Linked DNA regions of Homo sapiens. The protein of the gene in region 1 interacts with the protein of each later gene in a pairwise test. Each region holds a gene or a part of one and is shown in the gene's direction. Other genes may lie near its edges.

Evidence for each region.
Region 2: the proteins of YES1 (region 1) and CPSF6 interact in binary tests that used the Homo sapiens proteins (3 or more experiments, as listed by UniProt).
Region 3: the proteins of YES1 (region 1) and JAKMIP1 interact in binary tests that used the Homo sapiens proteins (3 or more experiments, as listed by UniProt).
Region 4: the proteins of YES1 (region 1) and GAB1 interact in binary tests that used the Homo sapiens proteins (3 or more experiments, as listed by UniProt).
Region 5: the proteins of YES1 (region 1) and ZNF438 interact in binary tests that used the Homo sapiens proteins (3 or more experiments, as listed by UniProt).
Region 6: the proteins of YES1 (region 1) and MET interact in binary tests that used the Homo sapiens proteins (3 or more experiments, as listed by UniProt).
Region 7: the proteins of YES1 (region 1) and STAP2 interact in binary tests that used the Homo sapiens proteins (3 or more experiments, as listed by UniProt).

The regions. Positions count from the first base shown.
Region 1 is NC_000018.10:721,088-725,242, reverse strand, and holds the end of YES1 (tyrosine-protein kinase Yes), read left to right. Parts: intron 1-610; coding exon 611-819; 3' UTR 820-3,655; downstream 3,656-4,155. UniProt on the Homo sapiens protein: Non-receptor protein tyrosine kinase that is involved in the regulation of cell growth and survival, apoptosis, cell-cell adhesion, cytoskeleton remodeling, and differentiation.
Region 2 is NC_000012.12:69,253,069-69,256,568, forward strand, and holds part of CPSF6 (cleavage and polyadenylation specificity factor subunit 6), read left to right. Parts: coding exon 1-86; intron 87-3,500. UniProt on the Homo sapiens protein: Component of the cleavage factor Im (CFIm) complex that functions as an activator of the pre-mRNA 3'-end cleavage and polyadenylation processing required for the maturation of pre-mRNA into functional mRNAs.
Region 3 is NC_000004.12:6,078,550-6,082,049, reverse strand, and holds part of JAKMIP1 (janus kinase and microtubule-interacting protein 1), read left to right. Parts: intron 1-294; coding exon 295-441; intron 442-1,737; coding exon 1,738-1,878; intron 1,879-3,051; coding exon 3,052-3,111; intron 3,112-3,500. UniProt on the Homo sapiens protein: Associates with microtubules and may play a role in the microtubule-dependent transport of the GABA-B receptor. May play a role in JAK1 signaling and regulate microtubule cytoskeleton rearrangements.
Region 4 is NC_000004.12:143,413,376-143,416,875, forward strand, and holds part of GAB1 (GRB2-associated-binding protein 1), read left to right. Parts: intron 1-2,101; coding exon 2,102-2,396; intron 2,397-3,500. UniProt on the Homo sapiens protein: Adapter protein that plays a role in intracellular signaling cascades triggered by activated receptor-type kinases. Plays a role in FGFR1 signaling. Probably involved in signaling by the epidermal growth factor receptor (EGFR) and the insulin receptor (INSR).
Region 5 is NC_000010.11:30,878,366-30,881,865, reverse strand, and holds part of ZNF438 (zinc finger protein 438), read left to right. Parts: intron 1-3,500. UniProt on the Homo sapiens protein: Isoform 1 acts as a transcriptional repressor.
Region 6 is NC_000007.14:116,796,537-116,798,877, forward strand, and holds the end of MET (hepatocyte growth factor receptor isoform b preproprotein), read left to right. Parts: 3' UTR 1-1,841; downstream 1,842-2,341. UniProt on the Homo sapiens protein: Receptor tyrosine kinase that transduces signals from the extracellular matrix into the cytoplasm by binding to hepatocyte growth factor/HGF ligand. Regulates many physiological processes including proliferation, scattering, morphogenesis and survival.
Region 7 is NC_000019.10:4,323,543-4,326,185, reverse strand, and holds the end of STAP2 (signal-transducing adaptor protein 2), read left to right. Parts: intron 1-640; coding exon 641-790; intron 791-877; coding exon 878-970; intron 971-1,518; coding exon of another isoform or gene 1,519-1,656; coding exon 1,657-1,731; intron 1,732-1,988; coding exon 1,989-2,053; 3' UTR 2,054-2,143; downstream 2,144-2,643. Other genes in the region: FSD1 (fibronectin type III and SPRY domain-containing protein 1), read right to left, coding at 2,543-2,643. UniProt on the Homo sapiens protein: Substrate of protein kinase PTK6. May play a regulatory role in the acute-phase response in systemic inflammation and may modulate STAT3 activity.

The DNA.
Region 1 (4,155 bases):
AGGAGGCATTTTGCTGTCCTGTGATAAGATGGGGTGAACTGCTGATCAGGGGGTTGAGGAAGGGGGGATTACAAAGGAATACAAGAAAGGAACTATGTGTAATATCTTGAAGAAAGTCAAACAGGTAATATTAGATAAGGAAACTTTCACAGAAGTAATTCAATATAAAGTTATGTAGTTGGTATATTTGGCAAAACCAAGACTAGAACTTTCTTCTGAATTCCTGTTTTAAAGTTCTTTCAGACAGGATCTTGCCACCATTCCTCAGTAACCCAAGTTTGGTCATTGTTAAATGTTAATATTAGAAAGTACCAGTACCTCATAGTAGCACCCTAAATTCTTATTAATCAAATGGGGTTGGCTTTTGAAGACATTAGTATTAAAAATAAGATATAAGATGGAATGAAAAATTAGACATGTTAAAACATAGATTAGCATTTTCTAAGCTCTTCTTGATATTCTCATGTTTAAAATTTATTTTGTTGCTTTGTTAAAAGAATTGTTTCACTAAATAATATACTTTGAATGAGTTAGTGGCTAGGGGGTTTGTTATGTTTTCCTAGTGGTAGTTAGGACCATTGTTCTTTAATGTTTTAATCTTGTGTATTAGGTATGGTGAACCGTGAAGTATTAGAACAAGTGGAGCGAGGATACAGGATGCCGTGCCCTCAGGGCTGTCCAGAATCCCTCCATGAATTGATGAATCTGTGTTGGAAGAAGGACCCTGATGAAAGACCAACATTTGAATATATTCAGTCCTTCTTGGAAGACTACTTCACTGCTACAGAGCCACAGTACCAGCCAGGAGAAAATTTATAATTCAAGTAGCCTATTTTATATGCACAAATCTGCCAAAATATAAAGAACTTGTGTAGATTTTCTACAGGAATCAAAAGAAGAAAATCTTCTTTACTCTGCATGTTTTTAATGGTAAACTGGAATCCCAGATATGGTTGCACAAAACCACTTTTTTTTCCCCAAGTATTAAACTCTAATGTACCAATGATGAATTTATCAGCGTATTTCAGGGTCCAAACAAAATAGAGCTAAGATACTGATGACAGTGTGGGTGACAGCATGGTAATGAAGGACAGTGAGGCTCCTGCTTATTTATAAATCATTTCCTTTCTTTTTTTCCCCAAAGTCAGAATTGCTCAAAGAAAATTATTTATTGTTACAGATAAAACTTGAGAGATAAAAAGCTATACCATAATAAAATCTAAAATTAAGGAATATCATGGGACCAAATAATTCCATTCCAGTTTTTTAAAGTTTCTTGCATTTATTATTCTCAAAAGTTTTTTCTAAGTTAAACAGTCAGTATGCAATCTTAATATATGCTTTCTTTTGCATGGACATGGGCCAGGTTTTTCAAAAGGAATATAAACAGGATCTCAAACTTGATTAAATGTTAGACCACAGAAGTGGAATTTGAAAGTATAATGCAGTACATTAATATTCATGTTCATGGAACTGAAAGAATAAGAACTTTTTCACTTCAGTCCTTTTCTGAAGAGTTTGACTTAGAATAATGAAGGTAACTAGAAAGTGAGTTAATCTTGTATGAGGTTGCATTGATTTTTTAAGGCAATATATAATTGAAACTACTGTCCAATCAAAGGGGAAATGTTTTGATCTTTAGATAGCATGCAAAGTAAGACCCAGCATTTTAAAAGCCCTTTTTAAAAACTAGACTTCGTACTGTGAGTATTGCTTATATGTCCTTATGGGGATGGGTGCCACAAATAGAAAATATGACCAGATCAGGGACTTGAATGCACTTTTGCTCATGGTGAATATAGATGAACAGAGAGGAAAATGTATTTAAAAGAAATACGAGAAAAGAAAGTGAAAGTTTTACAAGTTAGAGGGATGGAAGGTAATGTTTAATGTTGATGTCATGGAGTGACAGAATGGCTTTGCTGGCACTCAGAGCTCCTCACTTAGCTATATTCTGAGACTTTGAAGAGTTATAAAGTATAACTATAAAACTAATTTTTCTTACACACTAAATGGGTATTTGTTCAAAATAATGAAGTTATGGCTTCACATTCATTGCAGTGGGATATGGTTTTTATGTAAAACATTTTTAGAACTCCAGTTTTCAAATCATGTTTGAATCTACATTCACTTTTTTTTGTTTTCTTTTTTGAGACGGAGTCTCGCTCTGTCGCCCAGGCTGGAGTGCAGTGGCGCGATCTCGGCTCACTGCAAGCTCTGCCTCCCAGGTTCACACCATTCTCCTGCCTCAGCCTCCCGAGTAGCTGGGACTACAGGTGCCCACCACCACGCCTGGCTAGTTTTTTGTATTTTTAGTAGAGACGCAGTTTCACCGTGTTAGCCAGGATAGTCTCGATCTCCTGACCTTGTGATCTGCCCGCCTCGGCCTCCCAAAGTGCTGGGATTACAGGCGTGAGCCACCGCGCCCAGCCTACATTCACTTCTAAAGTCTATGTAATGGTGGTCATTTTTTCCCTTTTAGAATACATTAAATGGTTGATTTGGGGAGGAAAACTTATTCTGAATATTAACGGTGGTGAAAAGGGGACAGTTTTTACCCTAAAGTGCAAAAGTGAAACATACAAAATAAGACTAATTTTTAAGAGTAACTCAGTAATTTCAAAATACAGATTTGAATAGCAGCATTAGTGGTTTGAGTGTCTAGCAAAGGAAAAATTGATGAATAAAATGAAGGTCTGGTGTATATGTTTTAAAATACTCTCATATAGTCACACTTTAAATTAAGCCTTATATTAGGCCCCTCTATTTTCAGGATATAATTCTTAACTATCATTATTTACCTGATTTTAATCATCAGATTCGAAATTCTGTGCCATGGCATATATGTTCAAATTCAAACCATTTTTAAAATGTGAAGATGGACTTCATGCAAGTTGGCAGTGGTTCTGGTACTAAAAATTGTGGTTGTTTTTTCTGTTTACGTAACCTGCTTAGTATTGACACTCTCTACCAAGAGGGTCTTCCTAAGAAGAGTGCTGTCATTATTTCCTCTTATCAACAACTTGTGACATGAGATTTTTTAAGGGCTTTATGTGAACTATGATATTGTAATTTTTCTAAGCATATTCAAAAGGGTGACAAAATTACGTTTATGTACTAAATCTAATCAGGAAAGTAAGGCAGGAAAAGTTGATGGTATTCATTAGGTTTTAACTGAATGGAGCAGTTCCTTATATAATAACAATTGTATAGTAGGGATAAAACACTAACTTAATGTGTATTCATTTTAAATTGTTCTGTATTTTTAAATTGCCAAGAAAAACAACTTTGTAAATTTGGAGATATTTTCCAACAGCTTTTCGTCTTCAGTGTCTTAATGTGGAAGTTAACCCTTACCAAAAAAGGAAGTTGGCAAAAACAGCCTTCTAGCACACTTTTTTAAATGAATAATGGTAGCCTAAACTTAATATTTTTATAAAGTATTGTAATATTGTTTTGTGGATAATTGAAATAAAAAGTTCTCATTGAATGCACCTATTAATCGTTTTAGTTGCTATTCATATTCTCATTCGTTTTTTAAAAACTGATATATTCTGAATTTATTCTTCCATTGAGAAAAAAATGTTCAGTTACTTGTAACTACTGAGCAGAATTTAATCAATCCTTTATTAAATTCAGAACATTATTGAACTCATTCTTTGTGGTCAATTTTCTTTTTTTTTTGTTTTGTTTTGTTTTTTTTTTGAGACGGAGTCTCGCTCTGTCGCCCAGGCTGGAGTGCAGTGGCGCGATCTTGGCTCACTGCAAGCTCCGCCTCCCGGGGTCACGCCATTCTCCTGCCTCGGCCACCCGAGTAGCTGGGACTACAGGCGCCTGCTACCACGCCCGGCTAATTTTTTGTATTTTTTAGTAGAGACGGGGTTTCACCATGTTAGCCAGGATGGTCTCGATCTCCTGACCTCGTGATCCGTCCGCTTCGGCCTCCCAAAGTGCTGGGATTACAGGCGTGAGCCACCGCGCCCGGCCTGTGGTCAATTTTCTATGTCAAGTGAGTGACATTATTTTTACAAGTATTTTCTTCTTCTTAAAATTATACCAGCAAATACAGTTAATGCAGAAACCTAAGTAATTTGAGTGTAGCTATTCACAATCTATGTGAAGAATATAAAATAGAATGACCAGTTTTATTATAAA
Region 2 (3,500 bases), on another chromosome or scaffold:
TTAACTGAAGCAGTTCATTCTTTGGGAGTAAATGATATTTTGGAGATAAAATTTTTTGAAAATCGGGCAAATGGCCAGTCAAAGGGGTAAGTTTTTTTTTTCTTTCTTTTTGATTTAGTAGCTAGTGATACAGTTTTTACAAGTTAACTTTCCTTTAAGTTAATGTTAATTACACATGTATACACATGTATACAAACAACACATGATTGTTTACATTGGAAGGAGGTTCTTGGGCAAAGATTGATACTTTTCATTTTACGTACCCTATTACCTAACACACTAAAACCAGTAGAGTGGAAATGTGGACAGATTTATTTTCTATTTTTCCCAAGTTTTCTCTATCTGTGGTTGAAATGGTTGTTGAAATGACAGTTTAAGAACCATTACTCTCCCTGTGATTAAGAGATGGGAGAAGATGGGCAACTGAATAATGTGTTACATGGATATTTTGCTTTATTTCACTACTAAACTATACAAGTGGGATAGCCTCAGCATGAGAACATTATAAATACAGATATCTAAAAGTAAGAAAATAAAATACCACTGTCCTACCATTCATTGATGTTTACTTTTAACATTTTAGTGAAGATTCTTTTGGGCTTTTTCCTAAAAATAAATAAATAAATAAATAATGGAATTATAATTCATGTGTTTTATATGTTTGATATAAGGAATAAAAATAAATACACATCCTCTCTAATGTCTAATTCTTTTGCATCATACCTGGTATGCTACTGTAATTTACCTTTCTTATTTTTGGTTATCGTGGTGGTTTCCACTTTTGCCTATTGTAAATAATGTTGCAGCAGACATCATTTTATATAAGTCTTTTGGTACAGATTTTGGATTTTCTTTTAAGGATAAATTGTTAGATGCACAATGATAAAGAATTTTCTTATTTCTTATATTGCTTACTTATCTTAGAAGATTATACCAATTTATACTAAACTGAGAATATTTTCAAAATATATGCAGAGTCTGAATACTTCTCACTAACTTTACTTATACCACTTGGTCAAAGCCACTATCATCTCTCACTTAAACTTTGGCAGTAGCTTCCTAACTGGAAGTATAGACTGCCCCCTACAGTCTGTACTCCACATAACAGAAGTTCTAAAAAAAAAATGACATTCTGCTCAATCTTCTCATGGTTTCCTGTCTGTCTCATTCTTTACCATTGTCTACAAGGTACTTTCTGGTCTGTTTTCCCACCACCTTTCTAACCCTATCCTACCACTCTTTTTCAGCCACATTAGTCTCTTTGCTGTTGGCCAGACCAATTCCTACCTAGGACCTTTAGCTGTTTTCTCTTCTTGGTTTACTTTTCCCCCTCAAATATCCACATGGCTTACTCTTTGACTTCATTCAGGACTCAAACTGTTTAAGAGTTTTCTTCCATGACCATCTTGTGCAAAGTAGCACCTTCCTATCCTGTTTCCTTTATTTCTGCTCTGATATATTTTACTCGTTTGTTGTCTCCTCTTCCAAGCCTTTAAGCTTAATGAGAACAGAGATTTTGTTTTGTTCTCTATTACTTCTCCAGCTCTAGAATGGTACCTTGCGTATAAGAAGTGGTGCTTAATAAATATTTGTTAAATTAATTTAGTTTTTTCTAAATGTTGTGACCCAAGATAATCCTGGTGCAAACAGCAGAACTTGTTGACTAAAATAAGAAGGATAATTTAAAAGATCATATTGAACATTAGGGGGAAAAGAGCTTAAGCTTCTTAAGCTACTAAGACCCTCCCTCCCTCAAATAATTTAGAATATCCTGTAACTATACGAATTGGTAATCATTCTGATTATTTTAAATTTGTTTTTCTTTTTGAGGTATAATTCATATGCCATAAAATGCAGGCTTTTAAATGTACAATTCAATGATAATTTATTATATTTATGAAGTTTAGCAACCATTACCACTGTCTCATTCCAGAACATTTCATCACTCCAAGAAGGAACCTTGTACCTGGTTAGCAGTCACTCCCATTTCCTCTCTTCCTATCTGCTGGCAACTGCTAACGTGCTCTGGATATGCCTGTTCTGGACATTTCATCTAAATGGAATCATAAAATACGTAGTCCTATGTGACTGGCTTTTTTCCTTAGCATAATGATTTTAAGGTTCATCCATGTTGAAGCATGCATCAGCATTTCTTTTTATGGCTGAGTAATATTCCACTACATGGATATAGCACTTTTTTCTTTTAATCTATCAGTCGATGGACGTCTAGGTTATTTCCACTTTTGGCTATTAAGGAAAATGCCCCTGTGAATATTTGTGTACCCATTTTGTGTGAACATGTATTTTCAGTTCTGTTGGATGTGTACCTAGGAATGGAATTACTGGGTTAATATAGTAACTCTATGTTTAAATGTTTGAGGAATTACCAGATTATTTGCCAGAGGCATTGTGCCATTTTATTAATACGTGCTCATCAGCAATGTGCAATGGTTCCAGTTTCTCCACATATTTATTTATTTATTTATTTATTGAGACAGAGTCTCACTCTGTCACCCAGGCTGGAGTGCAGTGGCGCAATCTTGGCTCATTGCAACTTCTGCCTCCCAGGTTCAAGCGATTCTCCTGTCTCAGCCTCCCAGCGTGGGACTACAGGCACACGCCACCATGCCTGGCTAATTTTTGAATTTTTAGTAGAGACGGGGTTTCACCATGTTGGTCAGGCTGGTCTTGAACTCCTGACCTCATGATCCTCCTGCCTTGGCCTCCCAAAGTGCTGAGATTATAGGCGTGAGCCACTGCACCCGGCCTCTCCACATCTTTAATACTTGTCTTTTTGATTATAGCCACCCTAGTGGGTATGGGGTGGTATCTTGTGGTTTTGATTTGCACTTCCCCAATAGTTAATGATATTGTACATCTTTTTATTGTAGCAAAAAGTGGAAGCAACCCAAATGTCCATGAACTGATGGATACATTTCTTTTAATGTTGTATATTTATAATGGAAAATTATTCACCCATAAAAGTAAGTGGTGATGCATGCTGTAACAGTGGATGAAGCTTGAAAACATGCTAGTTAAAGAAGGCTGGTCACAAGGGACCTCCTATTGTATGATTCCATTTAGATGAAATGTCTAGGATAGGCCAGTCCAGAGACAGAAATTAGGTTTAGTGGTTCCATAGGGTACAGGGATGGGAAGGAATGGGAGCGATGGCTAATGGATATGGAGTTTCTTTTTGGGGTGATGAAAATGTTTTAAAATTGATTATGGTGGTGGTTATAACACTGTGAAATACTAAAAACCACTGAATTATATATTTTGAATGACTGAATTCTATGGTATGTTATACAAGATGAACAAAAATGTGTACTCGTATAGTTAAGAAATATTTTTAGTTTTTAAAATTATTTATTTTTAGAGACAGGATCTCACTGTGTTGCCCAGGCTGGAGTGCAGTAGTGTGATTATAGGTTACTGTAGCCTCAAACTCCTGGGCTCAAGCAATCCTCGTGCCTCAACCTTCTAAGCAGCTGGGATTA
Region 3 (3,500 bases), on another chromosome or scaffold:
ATTTAAGTTGTTTCTAATTCTTTCCATGAAAATAACACTGGGAGACTACCACTATGCATTCAATTCTCACCATGTGCCTAGGAGACAGGAGCTGCCGTGATTCTCATTTGATAGATGAGGAAACTGAGGCTGAGAACTTGCCCATTGTCATGCAACTAGCAAACAAATGTGTCATCCAGGACACTGGCCTCAGAAGGGGTCCTAACTGGGTTGAGTCTCTGCTCACCTCGGTGCTGTGACCTCGGCCGTCCGTCGTCAAGTTGTCTGAGCCTCTGTGTCTGTTTCCAACCACAGCTGAAACGCTCACGAGAGACCGAGGTTCAGCTGAAGCCCCTGGTGGAGAAGAACAAGCGGATGAACAAGAAGAATGAGGATCTGTTGCAGAGTATCCAGAGGATGGAGGAGAAAATCAAGAACCTCACGCGGGAAAACGTGGAAATGGTGAGCTGTGGACCCCTTGGGGACAGCCCTGACACTCCCTTCTCTGTCTGGGATTCTTCAGCCCTGAACCTCCCGATTCACATGTTCTGGGGCGCACCTGCTGCCCACCTCCCCACAAAGCACCAGGCACAGTGTCAGTCACAGATGTCTCGCCTTTCTCTCCACCTGTCTCACATTCACTGTGCTGTGGGTGTTTGTGCCCAGAGGGAGTCAGACAGCTGTGTCCTTAAACACATCCCCCATTCTCTCTGAGCCTCTGTTTCTTCATGCATAAAATGGGAATGAAAATATCCACACTGGAGGATCATCAAGAGGATGAAATAACAGCATGTAAAGACCTCACAGGGAACGGGCCCAGAGGACACCCAGCAAGTGAAAGCTGTTACAATGATCGCTGGCGATGCTCTGCAGAGGGGTTTCTCCTCCAGCTAGGATGCCTGGTGTTTGTGGTCAGGGCAGGCGTCTTGTAGTTGACAGTTTACAGAATGATTTCAGGTTCATTGTTCAGAGTAGTATCAACCCCCACTTCACAGCCGGGAAGACGGAGGCTCTGTCACCACACATGCTCTGCTGTCTGCACTGTAGCAGATGCAGGTGTGTGTGTGTGTGTGTGTGTGTGTGTGTAATTGCTGTTGTGTGAAGTCCTCTCCTTCCCCTGCCTTCCCCTCCCAGGTTTCTAGGCTCATTTCAAATGTCGTCTTCCACCCCCAGGCCCTGCGCATCCCTTCCTGTCAGCAGTGTGCATGGTCAGCCCCACCTTGGGCTTGGCTTTGGTCTGCCCTGTCCCCTCTTCCAGCACAGGACAAGGTGGCCACGTATTAGTCCATTTTCACACTGCTGATAAAGGCATACCTGAGACTGGGTAATTTGTAAAGAAAAAGAGGTTTAATGGACTCACAGTTTCACGTGGCTGGGGAGGCCTCACAATCATGGCAGAAAGCTAAAGGCACATCTTACTTGGCGGCAGACAAGACAGACTGAGAGCCAAGTAAAAGGGGAAAACCCTTATAAAAACATCAGAGACTTATTCACAACCACGAGAATAGTATGAGAGAAACCGCCACCATGATTCAATGATCTCCCACCTGGCCCCTCCCACAACACACGGGAGTTCTGGGAGCCGCAATTCAAGATGAGATTTGGGTGGGGACACAGCCAAACCATATCAGGCCATCATCTCTTTCATCCTCCCATCCATCCTTCTGTCCCTGCACCCCTGAGCTCCACTCCAGCACTGTCCCTAACAAACACTGTTGGCGGGTAACCCTGTGGTGGTCTGTCTCCCTGTGGCTGCAGAAAGAAAAGCTGTCAGCGCAGGCGTCTCTGAAGCGGCATACCTCCTTGAATGACCTCAGCCTGACGAGGGATGAGCAGGAGATCGAGTTCCTGAGGCTGCAGGTGCTGGAGCAGCAGCACGTCATTGACGACCTCTCACTGGTACATCTAGCACAGCTGGCGCGGCTGCCCCTGGCAGGGGTGGCACCAGCTGACATGGGTGTCAGGAACGGGTGTTGGGGCTCAGGGTGATGCTGCTGAGCTGGGTCAGGGTCAGGCAGTGCTGACTTTGGGACTCACCAAGCTCACCCTGGTGTGCACATTCCCGCTTCATTCTGCCACTAAGCAGCCTTGGCTTAAATGAGATCACTGGTACTTGGGGACAGTTTCCATGGCTACCCTTTTCTCACATCTTCTCCCTAGCTTGCTGTGATTGAGAAGCATCAGTTTTAAGGATGTCTTTTGGCCTTTAGAGACTGGGCATGATCTGTTCCAGAGAAGGCTTTTTGTTTGTTTGGTTGGTTGGTTGGTTGGTTTTTAGCTTAGCAGTTGCAGACTGTGAGTTTAGGCCCACAAACTTGAACCTTATAACCAGACCAGCACCTTGCTAAGACTGCCTGTGTGAGTTTTGGACGTGTATATGGGGCGTGCATCTATCAAAGGGGGTTGAGTATGTCCTAAGCGGTGGAGAATTGCATCCAGAGAATTCCACAGCTCTCTGTGAAAGGAACTTCGGCAACAGGCAGAGAACACCTGCAGGGAGCTTTAGTTGGATCTTAGAAGTAGAACGTGTTCTGCTCACCAAAGTGGGTGTGTGATGGTTCCATGCACTGGTTTTCAAAGAATAGAAAAGCTAGTGATCAAAATTCTAGAAAAGGCTTTGATTATAATTTTCATGTTCATTTTGCCTGCCTCCATCTCCCTCTACCTCTTTAACTTCTCTCTTTCTTCCTTTCACCCATCCATCCATCCATCCATCCACCCACCCATCTGTCCACCCATCCATCCATCCACTCACCCATTCTTTCATCCTTCCATCCACTTATCTATGCATACATCTATCTATCCATCCATCTTTGCTTCATTACACAAAAGACTCAATGCAGCTTAGGATGAAAAATATATTTCAGTGAAATAACAATAAAGTCAAAAGGTGGATAATAAACTCTCCCTGTAGCTCTCAGTTCAGAGAAGCAGCCATCACTTGGGCACTTAGAACTTCAACTAGCCATGCCTGGTGCGGATGGGCAGGCCCAGCTCCCTTTGAGAGCCAGTGGCTTTGGTTTGTGAGATGTGAGGCTGGCTGGAAATGCCAACCGTTGTGTTTCCTTCTAGGAGAGAGAACGGCTGTTGCGCTCCAAAAGGCATCGAGGGAAAAGTCTGAAACCGCCCAAGGTGAGCCTGCGATGGTGCACCTGCCCTACCTTGCCGCTGTGTCACGGATCTGCAGGGCAGATGGGTCGTGGAGTGGGGAGGTTTTACAGAGGGGTCCTGAAGCAGACACACACATCTCTGCATGCCTGATGATGAAAAGCCTGTCATCACCGTCTCTCAAAGCAACATAAATATGGCCGTGTCATGTGACCCAGTTATTGTAATTTATTCATGGAAAACTTCCTGATGTATTCTCCACTTAGGCTTCAGGGTATATTCACCCAAAATTAAAAACATAAATACTTAAACCTTTTGAAGGATTTAAGGGACATTCAGGGTTGGTTTATATGAGAGCATATCCTGTTCTAAAAAAATCAGGAGCTTTGTGTTTTTTTGGAATCATGCAGAAC
Region 4 (3,500 bases), on another chromosome or scaffold:
CCAACACTTTATGACTTTTCAATATTATCTAAAACATCTATAGGACTCTACCCTGCCTTCCCTGGACACAAATTATATACTTATTCCTTTGAGCTGCGTGAAGAATGAGAAGTTAATTTAAAATGTTGATGATTAAAGACCTATATAATGTTTTTAGGCCTTTGTGATCTCTGGTCATCCTCTTGTTAAAGGATTGCCTAAATTTTTCTGTAGAGGAATGCTTGTTCATGTAGCAATACCTCTGCAGACATTTTGCCTGGGTTGCTGTAGTCTCAAGTATTTTCATGTATGTTAAATATTTTTTTCCACAATTAGTCAATTCTTTGAAGGTAGGAATAATGAATTATATACTTGTTTTTCTTCCCACAAGTAGCAAAGGGAATGTTTTATTCCACTGGGGGTTTTCGAGTCCTTCCACTTCCCAGAGCATCCCCACCACCCCGCTGCCCTTTTTTTTTTTTTTTTTTTTTTTTGAGGAGGAGTCTTCTTCTGTCCAGGCTGGAGCGCAGTGATCTCAGCTCACTGCAACTGCCAACTCCGGGTTCAAGCGATTCTCCTGCCTCAGCCTCCTAAGTAGCTGGGATTACAGGAACCTGCCACCACACCCAGCTAATTTTTGTATTTTTTAGTAGAGACGGGGTTTCACCATGTTGGCCAGGCTGGTCTCGAACTCCTGACCTCAGGTGATCTGCCCACCTCGGCCTCCCAATGTGCTGGGATTACAGGCATGAGCCACTGCACCCAGGCCCAGAGTGTCCTCTTGAGGTAGTCTTACCTAGAATGTTGAATCTGGAGCAGAGAATGTTTCTTAGTAAATGACTGAGACTTGCTAAAATAGGCCTCTTTTCTGTCTAGCTGCCTCCCTGAGGAAGAATTTCAAAGAGGAGTAAGGTGTAAGTTTGTTTCCAGGCACACATGTTGGGGTTAAAGGCTGATAAGGAAGGCTGTTTGTCATTTGGTTCTGCTTTTATTATTTGGTGACCATAGATTTAGGGAGGGTGATAGTAAAATAATTTTTTAGGCTTCTCTAGGTATAGTATTAAACTCAAAATTTACCAGAACTTGTGGAGGGGGTATGTGGTGAGTGTATTACAGATTGCCCATGTATGTTTGTTGGGAAGAGGAGGGGAAATATTAGAAAGAGTTAAATCCCATACTCAAGAATACAGGTCTTACTCGTATAGTCTTTGAACAACAGGCTGTGTGGCTAAAAGAGAGACACAATCAATTGCTTCCCAGTCAAGAAGCCAGAAAAGCTTCAAAACCTTTCCCCCTCCCTACTCCTTGCCACCGCACCTAAAAAAAAGAGAAATCTTTTAAGTGTTTAAAATCTGTAGGAGTCTTATGAAGAAGCAGCTTTATGTGTATTCTTTATGGCATAATATTAATGCATGAAAATCTGTTGCTTTTTTAAAAATTGTGGCAAAATATACATAACATAAAATTTATCATTTTAGCTATTTTTAATATACAATTCACTAGCATTAAGTATTAATACATTCACAGCACCATTGCAACCATGGCCACCATCATCTCCAGAACTTGATCTTCTTCAACTCAAACTCTAGGCCCATTAAATACTGTAATAACTCTCCATTTCCCACCCCTCCCCCTCCGCAGGGCCTGACAAATACCATTCTGCTTTCTGTCTGTATGAATTTGACTACTTGAACTACCTCATATAAGTGGAATCATACAATATTTGTCTTTTTATGACTGGCTTATTTCACTTAGCATAATGTCCAGCTTCATTCTTTTGCGTATGGATTTCTAGTTTTCCTAACACCATTTGTTGAAACCATGACTTTTTCATATTTAGTAAAAACTGAATCCTCCTTGATGTATTGCCTCAATATTATATAGTAGGAGATTTAATCGAACATACTGAATATATATATACATTATTAAGTTAATTGAGTTATGAGTAAACGTTGCTTTTCAGAGTGGCAGATTATCCTGTGGTAAAAACACACACACAAACACACACATATTGTGACTTTCTCTAAACAATGCATTTGTAAAATCAGTTTGATAAATGTGCATCTTCTTGAAAACATTATCTCAAGTTAATACTGAATGGATATTTTTGTTTTGTTTCTAGGCATGGAAGAGGAGATGGTTCGTGTTACGCAGTGGCCGTTTAACTGGAGATCCAGATGTTTTGGAATATTACAAAAATGATCATGCCAAGAAGCCTATTCGTATTATTGATTTAAATTTATGTCAACAAGTAGATGCTGGATTGACATTTAACAAAAAAGAGTTTGAAAACAGCTACATTTTTGATATCAACACTATTGACCGGATTTTCTACTTGGTAGCAGACAGCGAGGAGGAGATGAATAAGTGGGTTCGTTGTATTTGTGACATCTGTGGGTTTAATCCAACAGAAGAAGGTAAGTTCAAGATATTACTATTCAACTTGAATTCTTCTTTTCTGCTACATTTCCAGAAATGTCATACAATTCTTTGTTATTTTAGTTACACAATATAATGTTTTATTTTTATAATAGGAACTTGACATTTGGAAAAAGCACTGAATCCTTTAATTAGTTTGGGGAGAAGCTGTTTACCAGTTTTAGAGCGACAGACTTAGACATATTGGGGCAGTTTTTAAATATCCTGAAGTAAAAGGTGACAAGAAGACATTTTAAGAACATTTATTGAATTCCAATATAAATATTCAGTTTAACCATATAACACTGTTGATATTTTACTATTTTTCACCTATTAAAAAATAGCACATTTGGCCGGGCGCGGTGGCTCATGCCTGCAATCCCAGCACTCTGGGAGGCCGAGGCGGGTGGATCACGAGGTCAGGAGATCAAGACCATCCTGGCTAACACAGTGAAACCCTGTCTCTACTAAAAATACAAAAAAAAATTAGCCGGGCTTGGTGGCAGGCACCTGTGGTCCCAGCTACTCCAGAGGCTGAGGCAGGAGAATGGTGTGAACCCGAGAGGTGGAGCTTACAGTGAGCCGAGATCGCGCCACTGCACTCCAGCCTTGGCGACAGAGCGAGACTCCGTCTCAAAAAAAAAGCACTTTTATGTAGCTCAACCCAATTCTTTAGGTGCTATTTAAAAATATATTTTAAAACTATATTAGATTATGGCCGGGCACAGTGGCTCACACCTATAATCCCTGCACTTTGGGAGACTGAGGCAGATGGGTCACTTGAGGTAAGGAGTTCTTCAAGACCAGCCTGGCCAACATGGTGAAATTCCATCTCTACTAAAAATACAAAAATTATCCAGGCATGGTGGCACACGCCTGTAGTTCCAGCTACCCAGGAGGCTGAGGCAGGAGAATCGCTTGAACCCAGGAGGCGGAGGCTACAGTGAGCCACAATTGCACCATTCCACTCCAGCCTGGGCGACAGAGCAAGATGCCGTCTCAAAAAACTATATTAGATTATCCCATTTATGCCTAGTGTTCCATTATTGGAACGCTAAGCATGTGGGAGTTATTTATATCCCACTGCTCAAGGTCATCGCCAA
Region 5 (3,500 bases), on another chromosome or scaffold:
TACAGAGAAAGCATCATCCTTTGTTGAAGGGACTATTCATGTTCCACAGCTTTCCCTTTGGACTCTCATGAAAATACATATCTGTGTAGATTTATTTATGGACTCTCTATTTTGTTGCATTGATCTATATATCTCTTTCTTGAAACTAAAGTAGCATTAGTCTGATTTCTTTCTTCTTTTTTAAGAAAATTTTGATTATTCTGAGCTCTATTTTCATGTGAATTTTAAAAATTAAATTGGTTAATTTCTACAAAAAGTCTACTGGGATTTTGATTAGGATCACATTGAATTTATATATTTATTTGAAGAGAATTGCCATTTTAACAACATCGAGTCTTCCAACCTTTGAATGTGGTATATATCTCTTCATTTGTTTAGATCTTTTAAAATTTCTCTCTATGAGTGTTTTTTAGTTTTCAGTGTATAGGTCTTTCACATACTTTGCCAGGCTTATCCTTAATTATTTCATTTTTATGCTGTTATAAATGGTGTCTCAATTTCTGATTTATTGTCTCAATTTCTGATTATTTCTAGGATACAAAAATATAATTTATTTTTGCATATTGATTTTGTATTGTGTAACCTTGCTAAACTCAGTTATTAGAAGAGCTTTTTTTGTAGATTCTATTGAATTTTCTAATTAGACAATCATGTCATCTGCAGATAAAGACCATTTTAAGTCTTGCTTCACAATCTGAATACATTTTATTTATTTTTGCTCTATTGCACTGGCTAGAACTTCCAATACAGGGTTGAATAGAAGTGGTGAGAATAGATATCCTTCTCTTGTTTGTGAACTTGGAGGGAAAGCATTCAGTCTTTCATTATTTAGCATGATTTTAGCTTTAGGTTTCTCATAAGATGTGTTTCACCAGAGTGAGGAGTTCCTTTCTATTCTTAATTTATAAAGGGTTGTTTTTTTTTAATCAGTAATGGATGTTGGATTTTATCACATACAATTTTTGTGTCTGTTTAAATAATCATGTAGTTTTCTTTTATAACATTAAGATGGTAAATTGCATTTATTTTGAATGTTAAACCAGTTGTGTATTCCTGGATATCTCTACTTGGTCATGACGTATTCTCATATTGTTGGATTTGATTTACTAGTAGTTTGTTTATTACTTTTGCATCTGTGCTTATGAGGGATATTGGGACATAGGAATCTTTTCTATGTCTGGATTTGTCTGGTTTTGATATCTAGATAATCCGGCCTTTTTAGATAGTAAACATTTCCTCCTTTTCAATTTTCTGGAAGGATTTATATATAATTGGTATAATTTCCTCCTTAAATATTCAGTAGAAGTCACCAGAGAAGACATCAGGGCCTAGAGGTCTAAGAATTCTAGATTACAGTTGTTATTATTGTTTATTGTCTTCAGACTTGCATTATTTTTGTTTTTGTTTTTTTCTTTTTCTTTTTTTTTTTTTTTTTAGATAGAATTTTGCTCTTGTTGCCCAGGCTGGAGTGCAATAGCACAATCTCGGCTCACTGCAGCCTCCGCCTCCTGGGTTCAAGCGATTCTCCTGCCTCAGCCTCCCGAGTACCTGGAATTACAGGCATGCACCACCATGCCCAGCTAATTTTTGTATTTTTAGTAGAGACAGGGTTTCTCCATGTTGGTCAGGCTGGTCTCAAACTCCCAACCTGAGGTGATCTGCCCGCCTTGGTCTCCCAAAGTGCTGGGATTCCAGGTGTGAGCCTCCGCGTCCAGCCAGACTTGCATCATTTTATTAATAGTAAGAAATCTGTTGTTATCCTTATCATTGTTCCTTTATATGCAATGTGTCTTTTTCTCTGGGTGCTTTAAAAACTTTTTTTTTTCACCAGTTTTGAGCAGTTTGGCAATGATATACCTTAATATGTTTTCATGTTTCTCGTGAATCAGTGTTTTGAGATGTTTGGATCTGTGTGTTCACAGCTTCATCAAATTTGGAAAATGTTCTGCCATTCTTTCTTAAAATAATTTTTTTGCCCTTCCATCTCTCCCCTCTTCAAATACTGGTATGTTAATCTTCTTAAAGTTGGCCTGCAGCTCACTGATGCTCTCAATTCTGATTTTTGTTTTTTGTTTTTTTAATTTTACTGTCTTCTCCATTCTGTGTAGTCTCAATAGCTGTGCCTTCAGATTTGCTAATATTTTCTTCTGACGTGTCTAATGTGCCATTAATTTCATGCAGTATATTTTTCATCTTATACATTATAGTTTTTATCTCTAGAAATTTTATTTGAATTTTTTCATGTCTTTTCTACCTGTACTTAACATTTTGAGCACATGAAATCTAGTTACACACTTAATGTCCTTGTCTGCTAATTCTAATATATGTCAGTCCTGCTCAGTTTTGATTGTTTTCTAAATTATGGATCATATTTTTCTGCGTTTCTGCATGCTTGATAATTTTTATTAGATGTCAGTCATTATGAATTTTACTTTATTGGGTGGTAGATATTTTTGTATTTCTATAAATATTTTGTGATTTTTTCTGGTACATAGTTAAAATAGTTTGAAACAGTTTGATTCTTTCATGTCTTGCTTTAAGATTTACGTGAAACCAGAGAAATGCACAGTTTAGAATTAAGTATTCCCCCCTACTAAGGCAAGACCCTTCTGTGTACTCTACCCATTCCTTTGTGGATTATGAGTTTTTTTACCCTAGCTAATGGGAACAGGCAATATTCCCGTTCTTCTGTGACTGTAGTGTACCTTGGACCTTTCCCTGGTCTTGGGGTGTTTCCTCACTTGCCTGTGCTGATCATTACAAAGGTAAATAACCCAGCGAGGACCCTCTCTGTTGTGCTGTGTCTGTGTGTAGCTCTCTTTTCCAGTATTCTGGAAATCTCTGCAAGGATCTGTCCTCACATAGAGCTCATCGCAGTTGTTTCAATAGGGCTCATTGCAATTGTTTCCTGGCTCTCGGGGATCAGTTTTTCTTGACCTGATGATGCAGGATTTTTCTCGACCCCTTTGTCAGATTTGCAATGGGGGTGCCCTGTTTACTCAGCCTGCCACACTCAACCCCTTGCAGGAGGGAGCACGTGAGCAAGCGAGTGGGTTCAGGCTGGCTGCTTTGGGTGCCGGCAGGAGCAAGCTCCATGCACACCCTGTGGCGGTGCCCAGGTGGGAGTGCCTGTGATCCCCAGAATCCCAGAGGGCATGCTACAATGCCCTCTTAGCTTAGCTTTACCGTTTATGGACAGCAGTGTTATCAGCTCAGTGGGCCCCTTGTCTTGTCATGTGGGGTGTCTACACTCCACCAGCAAGGGCAAAGGGCTAGTGTGACAGCCTTTTTTGGGTACCTGCATCCAGTGGGTCCCAAGCCCTTGTGTGGTGTCCAAGAAGAACGAGGTCATGCTGACACTTGAAGGATGGTGGAGGCAGATAATTTTATTTAGCGATGGATGTCTCTCAGTGGAGAGAGGAGCTGGAAAGGGGGATGGGATGGTCAGGTAATCTTCCCTGAAGTCAGAGCGTCCCTCTGAAGTTAAGCTATCTTTCCTC
Region 6 (2,341 bases), on another chromosome or scaffold:
GAATTCTAGTGTTTCAAAACACTTTTGTGTGTTGTATGGTCAATAACATTTTTCATTACTGATGGTGTCATTCACCCATTAGGTAAACATTCCCTTTTAAATGTTTGTTTGTTTTTTGAGACAGGATCTCACTCTGTTGCCAGGGCTGTAGTGCAGTGGTGTGATCATAGCTCACTGCAACCTCCACCTCCCAGGCTCAAGCCTCCCGAATAGCTGGGACTACAGGCGCACACCACCATCCCCGGCTAATTTTTGTATTTTTTGTAGAGACGGGGTTTTGCCATGTTGCCAAGGCTGGTTTCAAACTCCTGGACTCAAGAAATCCACCCACCTCAGCCTCCCAAAGTGCTAGGATTACAGGCATGAGCCACTGCGCCCAGCCCTTATAAATTTTTGTATAGACATTCCTTTGGTTGGAAGAATATTTATAGGCAATACAGTCAAAGTTTCAAAATAGCATCACACAAAACATGTTTATAAATGAACAGGATGTAATGTACATAGATGACATTAAGAAAATTTGTATGAAATAATTTAGTCATCATGAAATATTTAGTTGTCATATAAAAACCCACTGTTTGAGAATGATGCTACTCTGATCTAATGAATGTGAACATGTAGATGTTTTGTGTGTATTTTTTTAAATGAAAACTCAAAATAAGACAAGTAATTTGTTGATAAATATTTTTAAAGATAACTCAGCATGTTTGTAAAGCAGGATACATTTTACTAAAAGGTTCATTGGTTCCAATCACAGCTCATAGGTAGAGCAAAGAAAGGGTGGATGGATTGAAAAGATTAGCCTCTGTCTCGGTGGCAGGTTCCCACCTCGCAAGCAATTGGAAACAAAACTTTTGGGGAGTTTTATTTTGCATTAGGGTGTGTTTTATGTTAAGCAAAACATACTTTAGAAACAAATGAAAAAGGCAATTGAAAATCCCAGCTATTTCACCTAGATGGAATAGCCACCCTGAGCAGAACTTTGTGATGCTTCATTCTGTGGAATTTTGTGCTTGCTACTGTATAGTGCATGTGGTGTAGGTTACTCTAACTGGTTTTGTCGACGTAAACATTTAAAGTGTTATATTTTTTATAAAAATGTTTATTTTTAATGATATGAGAAAAATTTTGTTAGGCCACAAAAACACTGCACTGTGAACATTTTAGAAAAGGTATGTCAGACTGGGATTAATGACAGCATGATTTTCAATGACTGTAAATTGCGATAAGGAAATGTACTGATTGCCAATACACCCCACCCTCATTACATCATCAGGACTTGAAGCCAAGGGTTAACCCAGCAAGCTACAAAGAGGGTGTGTCACACTGAAACTCAATAGTTGAGTTTGGCTGTTGTTGCAGGAAAATGATTATAACTAAAAGCTCTCTGATAGTGCAGAGACTTACCAGAAGACACAAGGAATTGTACTGAAGAGCTATTACAATCCAAATATTGCCGTTTCATAAATGTAATAAGTAATACTAATTCACAGAGTATTGTAAATGGTGGATGACAAAAGAAAATCTGCTCTGTGGAAAGAAAGAACTGTCTCTACCAGGGTCAAGAGCATGAACGCATCAATAGAAAGAACTCGGGGAAACATCCCATCAACAGGACTACACACTTGTATATACATTCTTGAGAACACTGCAATGTGAAAATCACGTTTGCTATTTATAAACTTGTCCTTAGATTAATGTGTCTGGACAGATTGTGGGAGTAAGTGATTCTTCTAAGAATTAGATACTTGTCACTGCCTATACCTGCAGCTGAACTGAATGGTACTTCGTATGTTAATAGTTGTTCTGATAAATCATGCAATTAAAGTAAAGTGATGCAACATCTTGTATACTGATAGTGGTTATTGCCAGTCATGCTTGATTACCTGCATTTGCATAATGATAGAGGAAGCCTAAGATGGATTTCACCTGGCTGCATAGAGCTCATCCATGTAGGAGAGCCTTAGTCAAGTGAATGCTGAGGAAGTAGTAAAACAGCATGCATCCCCGAATCTCAGGAAGTCTCTGTCTTTCCAAGGGTTTGGTCTAAGTTGCTGATTACCTGGATTTTTCTGACGATCTTTCAACTGCTAGAGCATCTGGTTCCTGTTTTAGCATGGTGCTCTTCTCCAGCAAGGTGTGTCCTTAGACTAGAAGACACAAAAATGGAGCAGCAGCCACACCATTGGCGCACAGATACCTAGGTGTGGGTTGGAGAGAGAGGCCTTCTTGCCCCATCAAAACTACTCTTTATCTACACAGGTGCCCACCCTTTTACCCCCAGTTACCAGAGAAATTACCTTCAGGTTATCTCCATGTATATTCTTGTAATGGTAAGGGA
Region 7 (2,643 bases), on another chromosome or scaffold:
ATGCAGATACGTCCGTGCACCGGCACAAACTCGGACACGTGTAGATACACGGGCAAAACGCACTCATGTAGACAAGGACTAAAGCAGCCACCTCAGCAGGCGTGCAGTCACACACGTATACACACCACAGGTGTGTGTGTACAAACGTTGCACTTTAACTTATCTAGATTCAATTAGTGTACACGTGTATGCCACACAAAGACTTTTTTTTTTTTTTGAGATGGAGTCTTGCTCTGTCACCCAGGCTGGAGTGCAGTGGCGCAATCTCGGCTCACTGCAACCTCTCCCTCCCAGGTTCAAGCGATTCTCCTGCCTCAGCCCCGAGTAGCTGCGATTACAGGAGCCTGCCACCACGCCAAGCTAATTTTTGTATTTTTAGTAGAGACGGGGTTTCACCATATTGGCCAGGCTGGTCTTGAACCCCTGACCTCAGGTGATCCGCCCACCCTGGCCTCCCAAAGTGCTGGGATTACAGGCGTGAGCCACCGCGCCCGGCCCAGACACAGACTTATACATGGGCACACACACAGACACACAGGGACACATGCCTGTCTCCAGGCATGCACACAGACCCCCCCGCCAACCTGCAAGGTGTCCCTGTATGACATGGGTCTTGACAGTGACCACGTTTCCCCATCAGGTCCTGCACCCTGCACAGGTGGCCCCAAGCCGCTGTCACCTGCGTCTAGCCAGGACAAGCTGCCCCCACTGCCCCCACTACCGAACCAGGAAGAGAACTACGTGACCCCCATTGGAGATGGCCCAGCTGTTGACTATGAGAACCAAGATGGTGGGTGGGGAACAGAGCTGCTGAGAGCTGGGGGTTGGGGAAACAGGTTAACAGCTGATGTGACACGTTACACTTTTGTCCACGCAGTGGCTTCCTCTAGTTGGCCAGTCATCCTGAAGCCAAAGAAGTTGCCAAAGCCTCCTGCCAAGCTTCCAAAGCCACCCGTTGGACCCAAGCCAGGTTGGGGTCCCCCCCATATCCCACCCTCACCTGATGGCAGGCCAGCCTCAGCCCTCATCTGACTTTTTTTTTTTTTTTTGAGACAGTCTCACTCTGTCGCCCAGGCTGGAGTGCAGTGGCACAACCTTGGCTCACTGCAAGCTCCGCCTCCTGGGTTCACGCCATTCTCCTGCCTCAGCCTCTCCAGTAGCTGGGACTACAGGTGCCCGCCACCATGCCCAGCTAATTTTTTTTTTTGTATTTTTAGTAGAGACGGGGTTTCACCATGTTAGCCAGGATGGTCTTGATCTCCTGACCTCGTGATCCGCCCACCTCGGCCTCCCAAAGTGCTGGGATTACAGGCGTGAGCCACCGCACCCAGCTCATCTGTCTTTATTGTTGTTTTTTGTTTTGAGATGGAGTCTCACTCTGTTGCCCAGGCAGTGGCGCGATCTCAGCTCACTGCAACCTCTGTCTGCCGGGTTCAAGTGATTCTCCTGCCTCAGCCTCCCAAGTAGCTGGGATTACAGGCACCTGCCACCACGTCCATCTAATTTTTGTATTTTTAGTAGAGAAGGGGTTTCACCATGTTGCCCAGGCTGGTCTCGAACTCCTGACCTCAAGTGATCCACCCACCTCAGCCTCCCAAAGTGCTGGGATTACCGGCGTGAGCCACCACACCTGGCCTCATCTGTCTTCTCTTCCAGAGCCCAAAGTCTTTAATGGTGGCTTGGGCAGGAAGCTGCCAGTCAGTTCAGCCCAGCCTCTCTTCCCCACAGCCGGTAAGGGGTCTGCGGGGTCAGTGCGGGGCGGGCTTCCCAGGTGTGTGACCGTACAGTCACACAAGTCCCCACACTCCGAAGCGCCCTGTCTTTTAAGGTTCTGCTGTCTCTGTCTTGAAATTCTTAATGCCTTCGAGCACACTGTCCTGTTGCACGGGGCCCTGCAAATCTGTAGCTGGTCCTGGGTGGCTGTCAGGGCGGTGGGCATGGACTGGGGATCCCTGAGCCAGCTGCAGCTCCTGGTCCTGAACCCCCAGGGCTGGCAGACATGACGGCAGAGCTACAGAAGAAGCTGGAGAAGAGGCGGGCACTGGAGCACTGATTCGGACACACCAGGGACCAGCGGGCTAGTCCCAGGGCATGGCCCAGCGGCCAGATTCTTTTTCCCAGGATTAAAACTCTGACCCCAGGACCCATGTGTCTGGCTTGGCTTGGGGGATTAGGGGACGAGGGGTCCGTCAGATGTCTGCCTACGGATGGCCCCATTTACTCCCAGTGACCCTCAGCTCAGTGAAATCTACCACCATATTCTGTGAGAAAAGCCCATTTTACAGCTGGGAAGGATGAGGTCCCGGTGCCACACCCAGGCCCAAAGAACCAGCACCGCGGCCTCGCCTGGCCAGTGTCTGACCTTTATTAAGAGGTGAGGTGGGGAGAGGGCCCGCCAGGGTGCCCACTCCCTCTTGGTGACCCCCCCATCTGGAGTTAAGGCTCCAAGCAGCAAGTGACAGAGGAGGGTGCCTGGCTCCAGCAGCCTGGGCTTGGCGGCGACTCCCCCAAAAACACCCCAGCTGGGTGGGTGCCTGGGGGCCTAGGTGAGGCTGGTGTTGGAGCTGCTGGTAGCACTGCCTCGCTTTTGCAGGCAGCGCACAGCACTGGGGACCTGCAGGCCTGTCGTCACCTGGAAGCTGC